2 separate regions of the Homo sapiens genome follow, and region 2 is linked to region 1. Evidence: fine-mapped expression QTL. Tissue or cell type: whole blood. Region 1 holds a variant in brackets; the other region holds the start of a gene. All regions are shown on one strand. Distances are from middle to middle.

Region 1 (8,108 bases):
ATTTACCATGTACCAGGTGCACTGGGGATACAGGGAAATAATCTGACAAAGTCCCAGCCTCCTGGTGCTTCCATTCTACTGGGTGGAGACAGATAATAAAATAAAATAAATATATATATATATGATGAGGATAAATGCCATGGAGAAAGCAAAGCAGGGTAGGGAAGTAAGAAGTACCTGCATGTGAGGGCTATTTTATATTAGGTGGCCAGGGACACCCTTACTGAGAAGTAAGGAGACAAGCTATGCAGATGTCAGAAGGAAAAGCATTTCAGGCAGAGGGAACAGCCATCGTAACTAACACGAGGCAGAGCATTCTCGTCATGTTCACCAAACAGCGGTTGGAGTGGAGAAAGAAGCAGGAAAAGAGATAGGAAATGAGGTCAGAGGGAGAAGGGGGCCATTTCCAGTATGTCATTCAAGATCATGGTAAGGGTTTGGGCTCTTCTCTAAATGAGGTGGAGGGGAGGATTCTATCAGAGCTATGAGGTGGTCTAACATGTTTTAGGAACTGCCATTTACTGAGATGGAGAAGAATGAAAGAAACAGCATGCTGGAGTTTGTTTTGGAGGAGTGCACAGGAGGCTGGCGGGAAATCAGTGTTGCACATGTCAAGTTGGTGATGTCTATAAGACATTCAGGTGGAATCCAATAAGCAACAGAAATAGAAGTCTAGAAGACAGAGATCGATGTGTGGAATGGTATTAAAAACAGGTGCTGCTCATTCTACAGTTTTAAAGAATTCAAGGTCCTGCTGCTAGCACTTCACAGTTCACCTAGCTCTTTGCTATTCAATGGGTGGCTCCTGGACCAGCAGCACAGTATTGCCTGGGAGCTTGTTAGAAATGCAAAATCTCTGGCCCTCCTCATACCTGAGTCAGAATCCACATTTTAACACATTCCCAAGGTGATTGGCCGGTAATTAGTTTGAGATGCACTTGTCTAATTAATATCATCTGGGAAATTTTTTAAAAACTACAGGTCCCACCTCAAAACAATTAAAGTAGAATCTCTAGGACTGGGGCCAAAGCATGGGTACTTTCACCAAGCTGCCTGAGTGGTTCTGATGTGCAGCCTGCCTGGGTTGAGAACCTCTGAGCTGACTCTTCTCATTTCTGTATGTTCCCTCTTTCCTTCCAGGTTTCATTGCTAGTTTTCTTAGAAAGCCATCTCCAAAGAGATGCGGTTCTAAGAGAGGATGCAGGCTGGTAGCTAGAGTAATCATGTCTCCTGGTTTATTGGGGACAATCTAAACATAATTACAATTATTATCTTTCGCTCACAAAAGTACAGATCCCCAACTTTGGCTGGATCGACTTAATGATTTTTCAACCTTATGATGGTGTGAAAGAGATACACATTCAGTAGAAACCATACTGTGAGTCCCCATACACCGATTTTTTCACTTTCAGTACAGTATTCATTTCATGAGATATTCAACACTTTATTATAAAATGGGGTTGTGTTAGATGATCTTCCCCAACCATAGGTTAATGTAAGTGTTCTGAGTTTGTTCAAGGTAGGCTAAGCTAAGCTGTGATGTTCTGCAGTCTAGGTGTATTCAATGCATTTTCAACTTATGATGGGTTTATTGGGGTGTAACCCTGTTGTAAATCTAGGAGCATCTGTATTCTGGTTTAGATGACAAATCATATGTTCTTCCTATGTAAAACAAAATGGCTCTATACTTTATTTCTGGATTACAAAGTCTTATTAAGAACAGGTAGAACAAAATGACAGATGACCTTTGGTTTGACAGGTGAATAAATATGAGGGACCTGGTTCTTAGGTATTAGTTGTTAAAGCCTTCTAGGTACAGTTTATCAAAAATACATACTTAAAGCCGGATGTGGTGGTTCACACCTGTAATCTCAGCACTTTGGGAGGCCGAGGCGGGTGGATCACTTGAGGTCAGGAGTTTGAGACCAGCCTGGCCAACATGGTAAAACCCTGTCCTTACTAAAAATACAAAATCAGCCAGGGATGGTGGCGGTCACCTGTAATCCCCGCTACTCGGGGGGCTGAGGCAGGAGAATCCCTTGAATCCAAGAGGTGGAGGTTACAGTGAGCTGAGATCATGCCACTGCACTTCAACCTGGGCCACAGAGTGAGACTTCCTCTCAAAAAACAAACAAACAAACAAACAAACAAATACTTAAATTCCTCAATTTTCAGGAAGACTGGGGGAAAATCAGGCCCCTCCCAAGGACTGGGGTGAGATCGGGTGTGACTGTATTCTGCCTTGAAAGTACTAAAGCCAAGGGTTGATTAGCCACGGGCTGATTATCAGTCTGTGATTTTCCTAGCCCTTAACAAAACTTCTCCTTCCTTTTCCTTTTGGATCTTCTATTGTTCCTTAACTACTCCACCCACAGGCTGAAAGGGACAAGGGAAGAAGGTCAACGAGAAGCTAATAATAGCAGCCCTGCTAATAAATTGGATGGGAAAGAAAACGGAAACAATTGTACTGTTTCTGGTTACCTGTGATTTTAAACCCTTTTGGCTCATTCCTTTTTCCAAATGATTACCAGCTGGTTTGAGGGCTCATTGAAGGCCTACTGATTGCTGGTAAAATTAAAATAAACTTGTATTTTAAAAAACTAGGTAGTCTTCCAGCAACAAGCCTTTGGAAGCTTTCCTTCCTGATTTACCAAGGACACAGAGTGGGATCAGGGCAAGAACCTGCCCATCTCATCAGGGCCCTCCCCGGCCCATCCTCTCCTTACCACCAATTCGTAGGCACATATGGATATAATTTTTAAAAAATATTTTTGATGTAGATAAGAAATTGATATTAACTTAAATAGCATAATCACTGTTCTACAAAAGGATGCAAATGGAAAATCTACATGTGAGTATGGTCTAAATGCATATAGATTATATCACAAGTTTTCCTAATTGCATCACTAGGATTGTTATGAGTATGTCTGCAAGGCAATCAGTGTAAATGCTTAAAACATGCTCTGTTCACATGTGTTCAAAATGTCTGGAAAAGAAACTATCCATGGCCAAAGTAAAATAGCCAGATATTAATAAGCCAGTTGAAGGGAACTCTCTGTTCTCTTGCAAAATAATTTAAGTGTAGATGGCTATTGGGTTAGAGTGGGTAAAACATCAAAA[A/T]CTACCTGTTGAATTGGAACAAGATCAGCAATGGAATCTCTGCAGATTAGAGAAGGTGGAAGGGGTTCTTTTGGTAGCTGAGAAAGCAACACAAGCAGGTCTTTCCAGTCAGGCCCTGATCAGGAATAACACTAGCAGCTTCAGGAGTACATCTTACTTTTATCTCTGTTCAACAGTTAATCAAAGGCTTTTTAGAAGGCAGAAGCAGGTGGTCCTGGAAAGCAACCCTGTAAGGAGCCCTCAAAATGCTCCCACTTAAAGGCTTAGGTAGAGTTCAGCAGTAATTAAGACAGGTTGGCCTGCTGAGAGAATCTTCTTGCTTTCCCCTAGGTGGTTAGATTTCTTTTAAAATCTTACTCTATGTTATATCCTGACTCAAATGTATTATGCAATAGGGCTTAAGTTGGTGAGTCAATGATGTATGGTATTTTAACAAGGAGTTCTATTTTAATGTAAAACTTTTAGCTAGATCATGTGCTACATACTCGGGGGCCCATCGAGCCAGGTCTAGGAAAACTCTTGCTTCTGAGGAGAAGGGAGGGGAAATCAGAAATTCCAACAGCAACGTCAGTGAAGGGATTCGCCAACCCTTCAAAGTGGCAAATTCTTTCCACCAACAGGATGAGAAATGTGCAGTCATGGGGACCAAAACCAGCATGACTTATGTTTCCTTTACTCACATGACCTTCTAAGAGTAGGCTGATGGAGACTTTCAGCTTCAAAGGAAGCCTTGGGAAAAGAAAAAAAAAAAGCACTGCTTTTGTGGACTGCCTCAGGGAGAGACTCTTGTGTGTATAGGATTGTTGTGACACTTGTCTAATGGCCTGGTCTCAGTCCAGTGCGGAGGGTAAATAAAAATAAGCAAATATCACAGCCACTTGCCCTGTGCAAATAGGGAAAAGAATGTTGAGGAAAAAATAGCCCGGAGTCAGAGTGAGTCAGAGTTGGTGAGGCCAGGAATATCATTCCTCACGTACGTAGCTCTGGACTTTTAGGCCCCTGCTTTAATCTCCCTCCCCAACATGAGATGTAGAATAGTGTTTTATTTGGAAAGACAGGGTAAGCCCCAAATTCTTGCATGATTTGGTACTATCTTGGGAGAAATGTACGCACTAACCAATTATTTTGGCAGAGTGTGTCCCATCCCCTGCATGGAAAGGCTATGATCCTGAGAGGAAGAGCCAAGGGCTTCATGCTGGCCACCTGCTTTGCCCACTCATGCTCTTGGTAACCCTGAGAATAGCTCTCAGCCTCCTCCAGCCTCTCCTGTCCCATCTAGGATGATTTTACTCCAGACAGATCTTCTGGCTGTAGGGTCAGGTGTAAGGATCTGTAGCACCCATTATTGCCAAGTTCTTTGAGACTCTCCAAAGAAACAGACCATGAAAAAAACAAAACAAAACAAAACAAAACAAAAAAACCCCTAAACTACTGACAAAGAAAGAAAAGCCTGCCAGGTATCTTACTCCATCAGGGCAAATTATAGCTAGAAATTCTGAGCACCTCTAAAATGAGTAGCAGTGAGTATTTCTCTGTTTCTCTACTTTTCCACAAAGGAAGTATGGCAGGTAGAACCAATGTTTTCATCTGAAAAAATCATCTTATCAAGGACCTTGCTTCAAAACCCAGATTGAAGACACCAAGAAGACAGGAGCAGCCAGCTGTATAGCTTGAAGTACCCAACATTAAAGTGAGTCATTTCTGGTATTAATTAATGTTGGCTGGAGCTTTAATGAATGTGGGAGTGGAGAGGCTTATGGTTGTGTTATTTATGATTTTTCTGAGTTCTTAATTAGCCTTATTGTTGAAAACATGAGGAGACTTTGCCAAACAGTCTGGCTTAGCCTTGTCAATGTGCTTCCTTAACTTAAAAGGCCACCTATATCCTCTCCTCTCAGAGTGGACAATGTAGCAATCTCAGAGACAAAGCCCATCTGTATTGGCACCTCAAGGTCATGGTCCAAATGTCTGGAGATTCAAAAGTTACATAAGCGTAGTCAAGGCTCTGAGAGTTTCACCAGTTTGACTCTAACGCTAAATTTCCTTGTCTATAAAAGGTGCTTTTTCTTTACCCCAATTAACAAACCACTCAACAGTCAAGAGAGGACAGTTGTTTGGGAAATGCTGGTCTAAACGGATTACAAATAGATGCGAGAGAGCAATTTTTCTGTTTCAAACACTGTAATGAACGAATTAAACTTGCTTGGAGTTGCCCTGAGCTTGTCCTCCAGCTGAAATTATCATGTACCTTTCCAGGAGGTAAAATAGCCCCACTAAAGGCCCATGGAGCTCTCTAAATTTGCCAGGAGCTGCGAGACACACTGCTGGGAGCACAGCTGTTTCTGTACCTGTGGCTCCTGGTCATGGCCGCTGGGATCCCTCTCGTAGCTCTCTGCGTACAGTCTGAGGGTGGCCCGCACACCACTGGAGGAACTGAGCCGGAAGATGAGCCGTGATGCATCCGAGAAAATGATCCTTAGGCCCTGAGACCAAGAACATCCAGAATGGAGCAGTGAGCAAATGAATACACAAGTAATAATCATTAATACCTGCCACAGAAATCAGCATGTTTTTATACCTCAACACAATCAGAATCAAGACCATTTATATTGGCTCTGGATACAGGGCATGTAATGAATGTGATGAACCTACTTAGAGTTACCCATTTGTCTCTTTATTCTATTTCCGTTGCTTTGTGGTTAATGTGGGGAAAGAGGAGCAAAGCTGTGAACAGATACTCAAGTTCTCTTGGGCTGGTGATATGGGAATCAGAAAGAAGTGGAAGTCACAGGGATGAAATGATATTCAATAAATATTCCTAGGGCCAAAGTTTGTCCCTTGTAAATCTGTGGATTAAGTGAAAGCAGGCAATTTGTCTATTACAGTAAGACGGATTGCCCACATTAAGGTTACCCCAGCATGAGGTTAGGCTGCAGGTTCCTCTGCTGGCAAGGGAATGCTCCAGTGAAGTGCCCAGGGCTGGAGCCTCAGCTAGGCTCTGGGGGTAGCCAAGTACACTGCCATCCTCTTGGCTCTGTCTTTTCTTCTGTCAATCGAGAAAAATGACAAGTCTCAATTATTTTAGGAGGTTTATTTGCCAAAGTTAAGGATGCACACCTAGGAGACAGGTCTATGCCTTTCTCCAAAGATGATTTTGAAGGCTCCAAATTTAAAGGGGAAAGGGCAGGATATTGAGAAGTACACAATTTTCATGTAAGAGGTGGGTAGGGAAAAACAGTCATTCATGCCTTTGTCTGGCTCAGTGAATCTGCATTTTTTTTTAACATAAGATGACACAGACAAATGAGGCAGAGGAAAATTGCAGGGAATCTGCATTTTATATAAGATAACAGACAAAACTGGGCCAGGGGAACAATCAGATATGCATTTGTGTCTGGTGGGCCAGGGGTGACTGCATCTATAAACTATCAATTTATATTGCCATGGTGAAATTTTAATAGAAACACCTTTAGTGTAAAGATCTAGCAGCTCACTGGGAATTCCCTTGTGGGCAAAATATGGGGGAGGCATGTAGCTTTTCATCTTGTAGCCATCTTATTTAGGAACCAAAAGGGGGAGGCATGTTTGCGTGACCCAGTTCCCAGCTTGAATTTTCCCTGTGGCTTAATGAGTTTGGGGGTCCCAAGATTGAATTTCCTTTCACACTTCTTACCTGACTTCTTTTTTGGCCTGACCACCAGAGTGGGGTGGGGCCAGAGCTGTGGCCACATCTACTAGTGCTGCCTAGGATTAATTCCTCATTGGCTCAGCACATCTCCATTCGCTATGTATCTCTTCTCAGTAGAGGCAGGGATATTGTAAAATTATGACCATAAGATGATACTGTGACTTCTGTTGAAGGAAATGTGTTCTCCTAAGACAACTGATAAGGTAACTCTTGTAAATAAGCATATTGGCAGGGGCCAGGGGAAGGAAGAGGAGGCAACAAAATAATATATCTGGTGATTTGTTATTTTGGAAAACTTCTATGTCTCAGGAGACATTGATATCAGGCATTCTCCCAAAGCAATTTATCCTTGAAATTTCTCTGGCCTCAAGTCCTGTTTAAGAATAAGCCATTAGTAAAAATATATATACCTGCTGCATATGTGACTGCAATTATTTACCCCCACCCCCATCTGGTGATATCTGCTGGGAGACACTATGGTTCCATCTGAGTGTCTTTATGCTTTTTTCAAGTTGTGTAGGCTTTTTTGTTTCAATCCCCAAATAAATAGCTTTAGTTTCTTTTGGAGTGGTTCAATGTCTGCCACAATTTGTGTAACCAAAGGGAGCTATCTCCCCTACTGGCAACCAATCACTCTGTAATACTGGCTTTGCAGACAGGATGATATTATCCAGGATTTATTCACTGGGCAAACATTTTAGTGTGGCCCTTATGGATTAGGCACTGTGCTAAATCCTGGGTATATGAATATAAAGACACAATAGTTGTCCTCCTTAAGCCTGGAGTAATTTTTTACAACGAACAGAAACTGTCTTCTTAACCACCTTATGCTGCTGGAGAAGTGAATAGTTACAAAATTCCAAATGGAGCAAGTGAAGCAATTACTGACTGTCTACAAATCACTGTATTTCAAGTTACGTTCAAACCTACAATAAATCCCCAAAAGTCTCACAATTATATTGATATTCACAGCCTTGTTTTTACAAACTCTTTTGAAGCTGTTACCTATGTTTAAGCCTACATTCCCGTTGTCACTACACGTGGGGCGCGTGAGCACGTGACTCTGCTCAGAACTATGGCTTACCCATAAATTGGTTAAAGCAATATCTAAGGATGAGGTCCTAACCCACCTGTTGCAGATTCCAAGTCACTTGGGATTACCTCTTCTGATGAGCCCCCAGACTCAACCCTTTGAAGTACCTCCCATTAAACAATTAACATTCTCAGATTCATTTTTGGCCAGTGAGGGGAAATTTAAGAATTCAGGTCATAACAAACTATAAACATGTGTTATCTGCTC
Region 2 (8,104 bases), 41 kb before region 1:
GGGGAAAGAGGGCATACTGCAACATAAATAGGAGGGAAACTGCAAGTAATAAAAATTGTTTAAAATTACAAGTAATTGGTTTTAGTGATTCTTGGTCATTTTTGAGGCACAGAAGGGGAATAATGCTTATATAGCAGTGATCCATGTGGTTTAGAACTGAAGCAGAAAGAAGACATTCATGCAACCAACAATCATATGAAAAAAGCTCAACATCACTGATGATTAGAGAAATGCAAATCAAAACCACAATGAGATACGATCTAACACCAGTCAGAATGGCTATTGTTAAAAGTCAAAAATAACAGATACTGGCAAGGTTGTGGAGAAAAAGGAATGCTTATACACTGTTGGTGGGAGTGTAAATTAGTTCAGCCATTGCGGAAGACAATATGGTGATTCCTCAAAGACCTGAAGACAGAAACGCCATTCAGTCCAGCAATCCCATTACTGGATATATACCCAAGGGACTATAAATCATTCTATCATAAAGACACATGCACACATATGTTCTTTGCAGTACTATTCACAATAGCAAAGACATGGAATCAACCTAAATGCCCATCAATAATAGGCTGGATAAAGAAAATGTGGTACATATACACCATGGAATACTATGGAGCCATAAGAAAGAACAAGATCATGTCCTTTGCACGGATATGGGTGGAGCTGGAGGCCATTATCATCAAACTAACACAGGAACAGAAAACATATTTACTGCATGTTCCCATTTATAGTGGGAGCTAAATGATCAAAACACATGGACACAAAGAAGGGACCAACAGACACTGGGTCCTATTGGAGGGTAGAGGGTGGGAGGAGGGAGAGGATCAGGAAAAATAATCAATGGGTACTAGGCTAAATACCTGGGTGATGAAATAATCTGTACAACAAACCCCCACGACACAAGTTTACCTATATAACGAACCTGCACATGTACCTCTGAACTTAAAAGTTTAAAGAGTGGGCACATACCCCTGATATAGATATAGCTTAATATATAATCTCCATATATATATGACTACACTCATAGCACATATTACAAAGCACATAAAAAGTAAAGATCAAATATTTTCAGAAAAAAAGAAAGTATGCACAACAATGACAACCTTCATAACTTCATAATAACACATGATAACTTAGCATCTTTTGCTTACAGTATTATGCTGATTTTGTGTTATTACTGTAAAGTACACTGGTGGCTTATATTTGCAGACTAGAACTGTCTCAAGATGCTATGATGCTCAATTGTGTTAACCAGTTTATAATCAATTAACCTAAGCTTGATGATGGCAACTGAATTTCCAGGTATACAAATAAATTTGAGGGTGAAGCATAGTTCCTAAAAACGATGCTGATCTCTGTTTTTATCTGCGGCATTGTATGTTATTTGACAATGCGAGGGAACACCCTATCTTTTCAACCTAATTTTTCTTATAATTAAAATTACCATTTTAAGCATTGGTAATTTCTTACCAGCGAGTAAAGTTTTAATTATTCATAATAAAATTTTATGATGGGCAAAAAGAGGAACTGAAGCAGAGTCACAGTTTAAAAAATTATAATTATTTAGTAATGTATATTTAATAATAAACATAAACATACAAAATAACCTCAACTTCACCAGTATTTCTCTCTCTTTTGCCTTTTAAATTTGTTTGTTTTTATTTGTACAGATTTAGGAGGTATTTCAGGTACAGTTTTATTACACAGATAGACTGTGTGGTGTTCATTAGTATTTCTTAGTCATTTTGAAGGAGAAATATGGTTCCCTGTGATACTTCATATTTCCATATTGATTTTTTTTCCTTTTCTCGTCTCCTTCCCACAGATGCTGCAAATATTCCCAGCCTTTTCCCCTTGATGCCCAAAATAAATTCCTCAAATACCCTGAGCCCAGGAACTATTCTTAATTTCACATAAATTTTATGTAAAGGGACTGAGTCCTTCCATCCCCCTGCCACTTCCTGGATTTTGCTCTTCCATACCTAATTTCTCACCAAAAACATACCACCACCACCATCACAACAACAACACTGCTGTGGAATGACAGGAGCCTCCTCAAAGGGCACTGGAGGGGAAGGAACTGTCTGACAAACTATAAGGCAATGGTTCTAGTGTACTTTATTGGCATGGAGGAGGAAAAAGTATAGAGAAACTTATTTACTCATGTGTTGATGTGATCACAAGAATGAGGCCTGACCTGTCATAATCCCCAGTCTAATTTCTGCCTCCATTTTTGTCTAAAACAGAGAAGCCCAACTGTCTGATGGGCAGTTCCGATTGAGAGTACTCTTCCTCCATCACCTGATTCTTAACATTATCCTGGGGCTTTACCATCTACCTGTTCCTGGGACCCAACTCCTAGTGCAGACCTTTCAGCTGGGGGTCCTGGGTCTTCCACAGATTTTTGGAATTGTAACAGCAATGATAATAACAATATTGGTGATGGTGATTATAGATAACCTTCACAGGGCACTCTCTGTGCCAGGTACTATGATAAATACTTAACATTGATTGTCTCTTCTGATTTTCAAAGTTCTAAGAGAATTTTTTTAGTTATCTACTGCTATCTAAAAAATGGCCACAAAACTTAGCATATTTTTAAAATATACTTTTTTTAAACTTTTGACCTCTTTTATTTGTTAAAATAGTGACATCCATAAACATGAAATGATTTGATCATAATGCATTCATTGATTATGGCTCTTGCCATCTTGTGGCATCCAGGACCCTGGCTGAAACGTTTTATCTCACAGTTTCTGTGGGTCAGGAATCCGAGTATGACTTACCTGGGTCCTCTACTTCAGGGTCACTGAGTCAAGGTGATGCTTGGGAGCAGAGTCATCTCAAGGCTCAGTGGGATGAGGATTTGATTGCAAGCTCACGTGGTCATTGACAGGATGCAGTTCCTCATGGGCTGACGGACTAAGGGCCTCAGTTCTTCAGTGACTGTTGGCCAGAACCTGCCCTCAATTCCTTGCCTCATGGGCCTCTCCAATATGGCAGCTTCCTTCTTCAAAGGGCGTAAGCCAAGAGGACAATAGAGAGAGTCTGCTAGAAAGATGAAAACCACAATCTTGTGTAGCCTCCACGGAAGTAACTTCCGATCACCGTTACCATATTCTATTGATTAGAATGAAGTCACTAGGTCCAGCCTACACTCAGGGGAGAGGATTACTTACACAAGGACATGAATATCAGGAGGTGGGATCCTTAGGGATCATCTTAGAAATATTCCATCTCACAGTTTGGGGAAGGAGGGAATAAGAGCTGTTTTAAGATTACAAAGACAATATCAAGACTAGAAGATCAAGGTAGTTCAAGGTCGAAATTGAAGCTAAGAAAGGTAAAGGCTAAGGGTTGGAATGGAGAAGTGCCTTATATAGTTTTTGATCCATAGTGTGTACCTCTCTAATATCCGTGTCTCCCAGCCCTAACATGAAGGTAGAGCTAAGGAGATGGTGAGTGTGAGACTAAAGGTTATATGAGGGATTATTAGGGCACGCCACAAAAAACTGCTGCTCTCATTGGGAAAGTAAATGGAAAATAATGGTAATGGAGTAGTGGAGTGGAACAGCAGCAAAGAGGAACTGAAGATAAGCTATCCTGAGTAAAAGCAACCCAGGGTTCCTATGGGAAGGAGACTTTTGGCAGAGACATGCCACATTATCAAATAAAAAAGGGCAGAGCCAGGGCATAAAGCACGTCTGAAATAAGCTATCCACAATCAAAGACAGTCAAGCTAAAGAAAACAAATTCCAGCCAGGAAACAGAAGGCTGGTTCTGGAAAGATTTTTTGAGGCAATGCTACATAGAGCAGAGGTGTGGAGGAGAGGACAGGGAACATTTTTAGCAGCATCCTCTAAAACGAATTCTATTTCATATGTACTTTATGAAAGGGGGAAAGATTGCAGGAATTACAGGCCCAAAATCCCCCCAAATTCCCGAGGCTCTGTCTATTATAGTCCTTTTCTCCAGCACTCTCCTTTCCCTCCCACTCAGGCTCTTTCGATCTTGTCAACAGAGCAGGAACCACGAAGTTCACACTCTGAACTTCTGTCTTGGAATTATGCCAGTATCATAGTGTGGGGGCAATAAGTGGGGATTCATTGAGGGAGGCAAGACAAACATGTTAACAGCCTTGAAGAAATGCCTTTTTAGTACAGAAAAAGGGAGAAGGAATCAGGAAGGGATTTCTTACCAAACCTCAAAGAAGATCGTTCTTTAAAGAGTGCTAACTTCTCCAGCTTTTAGTGGGGAATTGCCCTCCATGGGGATTAAGAGACCAGCGCCTTTTAATCAAAGGAGGGCTGTACGTTCAAATAACTGGGAACAGCTGAGTGTCCCACCCAACTCTGAAGAACAAAACAGCTACACGAAGCCACTCCTGCCTGCAGTATACAATGCTATGTTTTTTGGCTAATTCTCCAAGGATATTACACTTACTTTCAATGGTTAATGAATAGCTTCTAAGTGCCTGTTTCATTTAGTTGTCCAAAGGCCAGTGGGTCCCAGAGCATATAAAGCTGCAAGCTGGCTAATGAGCTCATTCTCTTGGAGCAAGCAGGGAAGCAGAGGAGCAGCAGGGTCAGGGTGCTGGGTTCCTAAGGTGCAAGGATGCAGAACAGAACTGGCCTCATTCTCTGTGCTCTTGCCCTCCTGATGGGTTTCCTGATGGTCTGCCTGGGGGCCTTCTTCATTTCCTGGGGCTCCATATTCGACTGTCAGGGGAGCCTGATTGCGGCCTATTTGCTTCTGCCTCTGGGGTTTGTGATCCTTCTGAGTGGAATTTTCTGGAGCAACTATCGCCAGGTGACTGAAAGCAAAGGAGTGTTGAGGCACATGCTCCGACAACACCTTGCTCATGGGGCCCTGCCCGTGGCCACAGTAGACAGGTACGTGCTGACAGGCAGAGGGACCAAGAAGGGCTGAGATGGGCTGAGTTGTGTAAGATCTGAGTAATTTCTGATCCTACTATGGAGCGACTTACATGTCCCATGGGCTGTCTGTCTAGAACCAAAGCTTTATTGTCAGGGAATTACTCTGGGGTTGTTATTAGGAAGAGTGGCGCCATCTTTGGGGAAAACCATGACGCAGGGGCAACTCATCTCAGAGAAACCCTACCACCACCCCCAGTGAAAACCCACCTAAGCCAATTTAGAAACCCAGGCTCTTTTGTTATATCATGGCAGCTGTCATTAATTAGTGGCAGGTGATGGTTAGTTACTTCCCATAACCTGGCTATGAGGTTCTAAGGAAAGCAAGTCCCAGACCAAATTCTGCCACACAACAAATGAAGAAGCAGGCATAAAATGAGTCCTGGAATCTCTGTGAGCTCAGAAAAGTCCCAGTTTACTGTCCTTTTAGGTGTTGTGATCTCACCTTGCATAAAACATTCCTTCAGGGGAAGGTGATAATATTCTAGAGGCAAGATTCATTCTTTCTCGCCATCTCATACATTAGGATAGTTATCATCAAAAAACAAAACCAAACAGCTAGTGTTGGTGAGGATGTCAATAAATTGGAACGCTGTGCATTGCTGGTGGGAATGTTAAAATGGTGCAACCACTGTGGAAAACAGTGTGGAGACTCCTCTATACATTAAATATTGAATTACTGTTTGATCTGGCAATTCTACATTCTGAGTTTATACACAAAGGAACTGAAAGCAGGGATTCAAATGGATGTTTGTACACCAATGCTTGTAGCAACATTTATTCATAATAGCCCAAATGTCCATCAACAGGTGAGTAGATAAACAAAATGTGGTATATACATGCAATGGAATATTAGCCTTAAAAAGGAAGGAAATCCTGGCACATGCCACCACTTGGATGAAGTTGAAAACATTATGCTAAGTGAAACAAGTCAGTTACAAAGGGCAAATATTGTATAATTCCACTTACATGAGTACTTAGCGTAGTCAAATTCACAGACACAGAAAGTAGAACAGTGGTCCCAGGGGCTGGTGGAAGGAGAGACTGGGGACCTATTGTTTAATGAGTAGAGAGTTTTAAGGTGATGGTTGTAGAGCAATATGAGTGTATTTAGTGCCACTGAGCTATACACTTAAAAACAGTAAATTTTATGTCATATATATTTTACCACAAGAAAAAAAAGATTCAGTTAATCTTATAGTCAGTATCAGGCAACAAGAAACCTCCTAATTCTTGGCTAGCCACAGGACCATTTAGGGATAACACCCTAGGCATCATTCTCAAGATACAGGCTACAAGACTATAATTATTTTGCCCTCTTCGTGCAAGAGTAGAAAGTATCTAAAATATTTTAGCTACTCCATGTATCTTGAATATAAGTAATCTTACCCATGAGCATCCACTTTTGGCATCCTTTATGCTAATTAATAAGATAATAATTATGAAAACCAAAACTTATTTCCAATGTTATACTAACCAGCAGAGTTTCTGGGTTTGATTAAAAATTAAGAGAAATGAAGTGATTGTAGAAGATGCCTCTAGAGTGATGATTTCTTTTTGTATAAATGTTAGAGGACTACCTCTAGAGTGTGAATTTCTGATAAATGTAACTGATTGCCTTTAGGATATAGCTTAAATTGACTAACACTGCATAATATTACAGTATACTGAAATGTTTGAAAGTAAATTATGGACATCGTAACACCCCCATTTTACTGCCTCTTCTCGCTGCATGTAATAAGATGCTTATCCCACGCAGAATGGCTGGCAAGTCAGCCTGGGAAGTCACATTTCTCCAAAGCATTTGCACTCAAAATGGATACCCAGGTTGAGATATCAAAGCAAATGGGTCTCCGATGATGGAATTCAGGGGACTGGGAATATGGATGGCAGTTGAAGGAGGGTGGGGTTGGGAGAGGTAGCTGGGATTTGGGGCAGGCAGCAGTCATCCTGGAACCTTTCACATCACTCCAGGGAACATCTCACCTTTCTGTGTAAAATGCCTTTACACATGTGCCCCGTGACTCAGCCTTGGCTATTCTGAGCGAAGGCTGAGATTTATGCCTTATAGTAGACAGCTTCTTCAGCTACTGGCTTTGGGCCTGGTAACATTTGGAATGGAGTTGTGGCTACAAATGGCAGTCCCTGTTCTGTTGTGGTTACACACCATAAACACTCCCTGTAGGCACTGGAAGGATCACTCTATAAATACACAACTCAGCCAAGCTCACCGGTCTCTCTTCCTCCCCTCTCCCCTTCCCCCAAATTCATTCATGATGGAGAAGCCAGGAGGATTTAGCAATTAGAAATGCCAGGCAAGATGACCAATGAGTACATCAGCCCCCGAATGAATGGCTGCTTTAGCCTACTGGCATAGAAAGGGCTACAACTGAAATCTGTGTAAAGTTGTCAGTTGATATCATTTGAGAAATGAATATGTTTGTATATTTTCTTTGAAACTAGCTACTGAGTCTCGAAAGGGTGTTAGGATAGAGACATGGCATCTGGTATAGTTCAGGGATCAGCACAGAGTTGGTTTTCATTCATTATTTTGTTGGCTGTGATGATCAGAGAAAGTGAGTGCAATTGAGGGGATGATGCCATGCGAGAAAGGGAGCAAGGATGTGGATGGACTAAGTACTCGGTAGAGAGAAGTTCCCTATCCAAAGCCCCCACCTCCTCTAATGTTGACAAGGATCTCACACTGAATGGCCCTGTTTTCATGAGTGAATGAGCAATAGAGAAGGAATAGCTTGGCATAACCCACTGGGAAAAAAATGTGACTAGAGGCAGGCATCCTGTGGCTGATAAAAAGGTTCTTTTGGAAGAGCAGCACATTTTTAAAAAACTGGTGATGCCAGGAAGAAGTACATCTGTTTCAAAAATCCATGTTTCTTAACAGTTTAGCTTCGCACAATTTGAGCTGAGAGAGGCAGCCGTCTGCCTCTTTGGCATTAATGCCTAAATAACGCACGCATGTTTATGCTGTTTTGTCCCCTAGGCCAGACTTTTACCCTCCAGCTTATGAAGAGAGCCTTGAGGTGGAAAAGCAGAGCTGTCCTGCAGAGAGAGAGGCCTCTGGCATTCCTCCACCTCTATATACAGAGACGGGCCTGGAATTCCAGGATGGAAATGACTCCCACCCAGAGGCCCCACCATCTTATAGA

What was found. PIP is the estimated chance that this variant, and not a neighbour inherited with it, causes the effect.
Region 2: TMEM252 starts here. The variant in region 1 is the best candidate, but not a certain one, in a credible set for the expression of TMEM252 in whole blood (TOPMed, PIP 0.72).

What each region holds. Positions count from the first base shown.
Region 1 is chr9:68,496,722-68,504,829 of GRCh38, reverse strand. It overlaps PGM5 (phosphoglucomutase 5), which reads right to left. Exons shown (of 11, transcript NM_021965.4): 10 at 5,469-5,603. It overlaps LOC124902174 (a long non-coding RNA gene), which reads left to right and starts at 4,146. Exons shown (of 2, transcript XR_007061565.1): 1 at 4,146-4,810; 2 at 5,377-5,949. The variant A/T (reference allele first, on the strand shown) is at 3,121.
Region 2 is chr9:68,537,328-68,545,431 of GRCh38, reverse strand. TMEM252 (transmembrane protein 252) reads left to right here and starts at 4,549. Exons shown (of 2, transcript NM_153237.2): 1 at 4,549-4,895; 2 at 7,939-8,104. The coding sequence starts at 4,618. It overlaps TMEM252-DT (TMEM252 divergent transcript), which reads right to left and starts at 4,407. Exons shown (of 5, transcript NR_187592.1): 1 at 4,202-4,407; 2 at 2,790-3,054. LINC01506 (long intergenic non-protein coding RNA 1506) reads left to right here. Exons shown (of 4, transcript NR_109769.1): 4 at 1,829-1,891.